2 linked regions of the Homo sapiens genome follow. The protein of the gene in region 2 purifies or fractionates together with the protein of the main gene of each other region. This does not show direct contact. Each region holds a gene or a part of one and is shown on either strand. Other genes may lie near its edges. The genes, in order: GART and CFAP65.

Region 1 (3,815 bases), on a different chromosome or scaffold from region 2:
GGACACCTCTCTGAGGAAGAGATGGCCAGAACATTTAACTGTGGGGTTGGCGCTGTCCTTGTGGTATCAAAGGAGCAGACAGAGCAGATTCTGAGGGATATCCAGCAGCACAAGGAAGAAGCCTGGGTGATTGGCAGTGTGGTTGCACGAGCTGAAGGTACTTGCTCCTTACTCATTTTTAGATATATAATTTTAGCTGTATAATTTTAGCTATACCTCAGCCTTGCCTCACAAGCTTTCTGCCCACCTTTTAGTGCAGCCATCGCTATGGCAACTATCTTTACACAGATGTAACATGACAGCACCCACCCCAGCGATACCACGTATCTCTTCATTTCTGCCTCAGAACTAAGCATTCATGCATGCACAGCCACACCCCACAGGATCGCTTCCCAAAGTAATCTCCCTACACACAAGACCTCATGGCTCTGCTGTCACTCAGCTCGATTCAAGGAATAGCGAGCAAGCACCCTGACAAGTACTGTATCAGTCAGGACTCTGCGAGAAGTGCTAGAACTTGGCAGAGGGGCAGAAAATCCACTCAGATTCACTAACAAAGACGTCACATGCTTGCTTTGGCAGGACACATACTAAAATTGGAACGATACAGAGAAGATTCACAAAAATAAAAAATAGAAAAAAAAAATGTCAGACCTTGTTGACTTTACCTGTATCTGCCTTTCTTTCCTCTATTGTGTAGGATTCATTTTCAAGCGGGTTCTCCAAATGCCGGAAAGATAACATCCTTCAGCTCACATTACAATAAGAAAGAGAGACCCAGCCGGGCGTGGTGGCTCACGCCTGTAATCCCAGCACTTTGGGAGGCCGAAGCGGGTGGATCACGAGGTCAGGAGATCAAGACCATCCTGGCTAACTCAGTGAAACCCCGTCTCTACTAATAAATACAAAACATTAGCCGGGCGTGGTGGCGGGCGCCTGTAGTCCCAGCTACTCGGGAGGCTGAGGCAGGAGAATGGCGTGAACCTAGGAGGCGGAACTTGCAGTGAGCCGAGATCGCGCCACTGCACTCCAGCCTGGGCAACAGAGCGAGACTCCATCTCAAAAAGAAAAAAAAGAGAGACCCTCTTTTTCTTAACATCGCATATCAAGCCTTTAAATGGCTTTGCTAGGTCACATGCTTATCCCCGAGACCAGGAGATCATGGCACTACTGTGGGTGGTCTCGCTAGGAAGATTTGGGGAGTAGGGGCAGAATACTGGCAGGCAGTCATATATATCCACCGTGCACTTCAAGATAGTGATGTGATCTGCAGCTTTTAGTTGAAGTAATTACATATGTTCACCTTTTGGAAGTTTTTATGAAAGAGTAGTGTTAAGTGATACAAATGTGTTGTTCATTTTAGTCCTTGCATTATCTTATTTTCAGGATAAAACATACCCTAAAGTTTTCATAAAATATTTTTCTTTCCATTATTCTTGTTAATTCACAATTGTTCTTTACTTATTTATGGATATGTTTGAAATGAAGGTTCCCCACGTGTGAAAGTCAAGAATCTGATTGAAAGCATGCAAATAAATGGGTCAGTGTTGAAGAATGGCTCCCTGACAAATCATTTCTCTTTTGAAAAAAAAAAGGCCAGAGTGGCTGTCTTAATATCTGGAACAGGTGAGATGTGGCTTCCCCTTCACTGTAGAGCTGTTGACTGCCCTTCCTTTCCTCCCCGCACTCTTGTGAGATTGTAAGGTTACTCTCGGCAGAGTCTAGGGACTGGGGGGAATCATGAGGGTTGTCTTTGTCTTTTCAGCATTCTTAGTCTTTCCACTTTTCTTAGGAATTTGAGACAGCTCCCAAAGAAAAAAGTAAAGGATGTCAGAAAGCTGGTTAAAGAGAAACCAGAAAAGATAGAAGCTACAGCTCATTTTGTATCATAGCTTTGTTGTTGAAAAGTCTGAAAACAGTTGAGGAATTTTTATTGTTATCTTATTAATTAGAAGAAGTTTATGTTTAACCTTTATGGATAGAGGGGTAAAGTAATAAGAGTATTGTATTCTCTCAGATGGATGTAGCCTGATTTTTTTCCCTCTATTGTAAGTAACACTGCTATGAACATTCTTGCAAATATTCAGTATGTTCTTAAATGCATATGTGATTTTTTTTTATTTGATGGCCAAGATCATAGTGATTCTTTTTGAGACAGTCTTGCTATGTTGCCCAGGCTAGAGTACAGTAGCTATTCACAGATGCAGTCATAGTACACTGCAGCTTCCAGCTCTGGCCTCAAGCAATCCTTCCGCCTTATTAGCCCCCCGAGTAGCTGGGACTGCAGGCATGCAGCACCACAACCAGCTCTGATACTTCTTCAGGATTCATTCCCAGAAGTTTAATTGCTTTACAGGTCGATCTTAAGGTTTTAATGTACTTTAGGCCCAAGTTGATAATAAAGCAAAGAAGCTATTGTAAGATGCAGCCATAAAAAAGAATAAAACCACATCATTTGCAGCAATATGGATGGAACTGGAGGCCATTATCCTGAGTGAACTGCCTCAGAAACAGAAAACCAGATATTGCATGTTCTCACTTATGAGTGGGAGCTAAACAGTGGGTACATGTGGACATAAAGATGGAAACAATAGGGCCGGGTGCTGTGGCTCACGCCTGTAATCCTAGCACTTTGGGAGGCTGAGGCGGGCGGATCACAAGGTCAAGAGATCGAGACCATCCTGGCCAACATGGTGAAACCCTGTCTCCACTAAAAATACAAAAATTAGCTGGGCATGGTGGCACACGTCTGTAGTCCAGCTACTCTGGAGGCTGAGACAGGAGAATTGCTTGAACCCTGGAGACAGAGGTTGCAATGAGCTGAGATTGCACCACTGTACTCCAGCCTGGAGACAGAGCAAGACTCCATCTCAAAAAAAAAAAAAAAAAAAAAGATGGAAACAATAGATACAAAACAGGGAAGTGTGGGAGAAGAGGTGAGGGTTGAAAATTTTTCTATCAGGTATAATGTTCACTATGTAGGTAATAGGTACACTAGAAGCCCAGTCCCCACCATTATACAACATTCCCATGTAATAAACAAGCGTGTGTACCCCCGAATCTAAAATTTTTTTTTTTTAAAGAAACTATTGTAAGAGTCATAGCATAGTGGTTTGTTCTTGAGAGGGTCAGTTTTTCTTGCTTAATTAAGCAGCTTATTTCTCATCAGTCAGTTTTAACATAATGTTATACTGTTTCTACTACAATGCTAGATCACAAGATACAGAATTTGTGGGAGCAATTACATATCCTAGGAGCAATTACATATCCTAAACCACGTCGTTTGCAGCAATATGGATGGAACTGGAGGCTATCCAGGAATATCTGTGCTTTTCACAATCTATTAATCCATTATCCCAAGAGGAAGGGAGTTTTTTTAATTTTTAATTTGTATGGGTACATGGTAGGTATATATATTTATAGGGTACATGAGATCTTTTGATACAGCCATACAACCTGTAATAATCACATCCCTGTAAATGGGGTATTCATCACCTCAAGCATTTATTCTTTGTGTTACAAACAATCCAGTTATTTTATTTCAGTTTTTTTTTGTTTTGTTTTTGTTTTTGTTTTTGAGATAGAGTCTCACTCTGTCGCCCAGGCTGGAGTGCAGTGGCGCAGACTCGGCTCACTGCAAACTCCGCCTCCCAGTTTCAAGTGATTCTTCTGTCTCAGCCTCCTGAGTAGCTGGGATTACAGGCACCTGCCACTATGCCTGGCTAATTTTTTGTATTTTTAGTAGAGATGGGGTTTCATCATGTTGGCCAGGCTGGTCAGGCTGGTCTTGAACTCTTGACCTCAGTATGATCCGC
Region 2 (3,815 bases):
GTAGAGATGGGGCTTCACCATATTGGCCAGGCTGGTCTTGAACTCCTGCCACAAGTGATCCACCTGCCTCAGCCTCCCGGAGTGCTGGGATTACAGGCAGGAGCCACCACACCCAGCCCGAAGTGGTTACTTACTGCAGCCCCAGAGCTTCTGGACCAGGCTCTCTGAAAATGAGTTCTCCAAAGAGTGATGCAAAGACACCCTAAAATGAAACAACTTCTACTTTATCCTTGAGGAACGGCCTTGGAGGCCTGAGTTTCCCAGGGGCCTGTGCCCCCGCCCCCCTGCCCCCCCCCCGCCCCTTTCTGGAGGTCTCTGGAGAACAAAAGCATTCTTTGGTGTCAGCTCGTGGCCTCCTTCAATTCCCCGTTCCCAGGGCGTTGACTGGGCTGCAGGGCAGCACCTCTGATCTACTTGGAGACAGCTCCTCCCAAGCCCCCATAGGGCCCTGAGTGTGTGTCCCAGGGTGGAGGTCTGAGCGGGGGGCCGCTTTCCTCCTCTCCCACCCCCAGCTATTTCCAGCAGTGTCCTCCGGTGAGCCCACCTACCGCAGCCTGCTCCTGGTCAACAAAGACTGCAAGCTGCTGACCTTCAGCCTGGCCCCCCAGAGAGGCTCAGACGTCATCCTTCGGCCCACTTCGGGCCTTGTGGCACCCGGGGCCCACCAGATCATCCTCATCTGCACCTACCCTGAGGGCAGCTCCTGGAAGCAGCACACTTTCTATCTGCAGTGCAATGCTTCCCCCCAGTATCTCAAGGTAGGAGGCAGAGGGAGGGGACCTGGGTCCTTGGGAATGGGCCATAATCTTGAACCACCCTTTTCAAGGCCATATTCTGGGGTTGGCCCCTAAGATTTCCAGGGGGCCACTTCTCCTCCAGGAAGTAGCATAGTAGGGAAAGAACCTGCTTGACCACTTCTGTGAACAACTCTCCCACCCCTCAGGGCCTTGCCTGTCCCCCTTATGGGGTCTGAGGCCAAGAAAGAGGGTGCAGAGAACCCAGAGGAAGGATCTGGGGGAGGCAAAAGACACCTGCAGGTGGTAGAGGGATATTTGGGTCCAGGCCAGCAATAGACTCTGAGATGGTGGGCCCATGTCTGGCCCCGTGGAATGGTCTATAGATCCTCTCTCAGTCCCTGAGTTCTTTTCAAGAATTATCTCCTGGGCCAGTCACCATTGACTCTGCTTTTGACAGAAACTGCCGGTACACGGGCTGGCAGAGGGCCTTTGACTGCCTGCTTCAAGTGGGGAAAGCTGCCTAGCCATGGCTTCCTGGACATGTTGTGGGGGGCTGGGACTGCAGAGTGAGGTCAGGGCACTGCCCTTCTTCCTCTGGCTCCAGGAGGTGAGCATGTACAGCCGGGAGGAGCCACTGCAGCTGAAGCTGGACACCCACAAAAGCCTCTACTTCAAGCCCACCTGGGTGGGCTGCTCCTCCACCAGCCCCTTCACCTTCCGCAACCCCTCGCGTCTGCCCCTGCAGTTCGAGTGGAGGGTCTCTGAGCAGCATCGAAAGCTGCTGGCTGTCCAGCCCTCCAGGGGGCTAATCCAGCCCAACGAGAGACTTGTGAGTGGCTCCCCTCCTGCCGAGTGACGGCAACCTTCACTTCTGTCATCTCTTATTTGTGCCTATCATAGCCCAGACTTGCCATGTGCAGCCCCCAATTCCATCCACAGTAACTTCCCCCACCTGGCGATGAGGTGTTATTATTACCCTCACCATCCCCCCACCATTTTACAAATAATTGAGGCTTGAGAAGGGGAAGCCATTTACTAAGATCATAAGTTAGGCCGTGCAGGGCTGGGACTGGAACCAGTGTTTCTGATGCCAGGCCTGAGAGGCATGTCACCTCCCCATCCATGGTCCCCAAAGCTGGGAGGTCATTGGGAGGGTGGGTTGCAGCAGCTGGATTTGGGCCCAAATGGCCAGCCACCAGTGAGGGTGAGGAAGGAGACTGTAGTCACAGTGGGGGTGCTGGCTGGGATTCAAAATAGCAGACCCCTGTCCCTAGTCTAGAACCTTACCGACGGGTTGGGGAGGCCAAACTTGGGACAAGAAGCACCAGCACAGGCATCTGTAAGAGCCAAGGGGACAGCCCCTCGGGGGGACAAGAGGCCTCATAGCCTGTGGAGTTGGCCTGGAATGTTGACATCCCGCTCCCACCCTCACTACTGTCTGACCCTGGGCAAGGGACCCCACTTCTCTGAACTTTCAGTTTCTCATCAGAAAATGAGGCATGGAAATAATACTACTGACCCCGTGGGGATATAGGATTGAGGGGATTGGGGAGACTCCATACATGTGCCGTGTACAATGCCTGGCATAGGGTAGATTCTGAGAAAGGGCTAACGTAGCATGACGCCCTGCCATGGGGCCTCGGATGGCCAGGTACCTGTGGAGGGGCTTCCGAAGGCCACTGCAGGGATCATTTCTGTGACCCCAGACGCTGACGTGGACCTTCAGCCCTTTGGAGGAGACCAAGTACCTGTTCCAAGTGGGGATGTGGGTCTGGGAAGCCGGCCTGTCCCCAAATGCCAACCCCGCTGCCACCACCCACTACATGCTCCGGCTGGTGGGCGTTGGGCTCACCAGCAGCCTCTCTGTGAGTGGGAGGGCTCTGGCAGGAGGGGGCTGGGGGAGAGGCCCGGACAGGTGGGAGGGAAGGCCCCAGGGAACCTCCCAAGGTGGGAGGGAAGGCCAAGAGGGCAGAGGATAGGAGCCCTCTGCCCCGGATACCCCAAACTTGCCCTTCCTTGGGGGATGCTCTGAAAATGGGGCTGGGAGAGTGGGGCTGTGGGCCTGGAGGAGCTCCCACTCCCGGCTGGCTGACTGTGGCCTCCAGGCAAAGGAAAAGGAGCTGGCCTTTGGGAATGTGCTGGTGAACAGCAAGCAGTCCAGGTTCCTTGTCCTCCTGAATGACGGCAACTGCACCCTCTATTACCGCCTCTACCTGGAGCAGGGCAGCCCTGAGGCCGTTGACAACCACCCCCTCGGTACTTGGGCCTGAGCTGGGACTGGGGCCAGGGGAGGTGGGAGGAGGTACTGGTTAAGACCGGTTAACCTGCTGGGCACACTGGCACGCGCCTGTAGTCCCAGCTCTTCAAGAAGCTGAGGTGGGAGTATTGCTTGAGCCCAGGAGTTCCACGCTGCAGTGCACTATGATCACAACTGTGAAGAGCCACTGCCCTCTAGCCTGGGCAACATAGCGAGACCCCACCTCTGAGCCTCAGCTTCCTCATCTGTTAAAAGGGGCACCAGGTGGCACCTACCTCACAGGGCTGCTAGGTGGGGAAAAGTGCTTAGCAGGTGCCAATGACACAAAGTTAGGTGTGGTCCCTCTGACCCAGGCTGGGAGGAGGGGCTCCACTCCCTGTTTCCTGCCTCAGGGCCTGCTGTCCTCCCCTGGTGCCCAGGGAAGGGTATCTACAAAGGAGCAGGAGGAATGGCTGGGCCTCCTCTACCCACTGACCCTCCGGCATCATCCCTGAGCAGCTCTGCAGCTGGACCGAACAGAGGGGAGCATGCCACCCCGGTCCCAGGACACCATCTGCCTGACTGCCTGTCCCAAGCAGCGGTCCCAGTACTCCTGGACCATCACCTACTCTCTCCTTTCCCACAGAGGTACCTAGACTGCCTGGCATAGAGAGTCGGGGCCGGGGAAATGCAGGATGAAGGGGGAGGGCTGTGTGAGGCAGTGGATGCCGAGCGTCAGGCAGAGCTGGCAGGGTGAGTGGGGTGTGCTGAGGTGTGCCTTTGGTGTCTGGCATAAATGCCACACACCAGACATGTCTGTCCAGATGAGTGTCCATATGTGC

Evidence for each region.
Region 1: the proteins of CFAP65 (region 2) and GART fractionate together in Homo sapiens (co-fractionation; one large-scale study listed by BioGRID). This does not show direct contact.

The regions. Positions count from the first base shown.
Region 1 is NC_000021.9:33,507,594-33,511,408, reverse strand, and holds part of GART (trifunctional purine biosynthetic protein adenosine-3), read left to right. Parts: coding exon 1-157; intron 158-1,488; coding exon 1,489-1,626; intron 1,627-3,815. UniProt on the Homo sapiens protein: Trifunctional enzyme that catalyzes three distinct reactions as part of the 'de novo' inosine monophosphate biosynthetic pathway.
Region 2 is NC_000002.12:219,020,958-219,024,772, reverse strand, and holds part of CFAP65 (cilia- and flagella-associated protein 65), read left to right. Parts: intron 1-512; coding exon 513-758; intron 759-1,341; coding exon 1,342-1,566; intron 1,567-2,443; coding exon 2,444-2,602; intron 2,603-2,842; coding exon 2,843-2,993; intron 2,994-3,492; coding exon 3,493-3,621; intron 3,622-3,815. UniProt on the Homo sapiens protein: Plays a role in flagellar formation and sperm motility.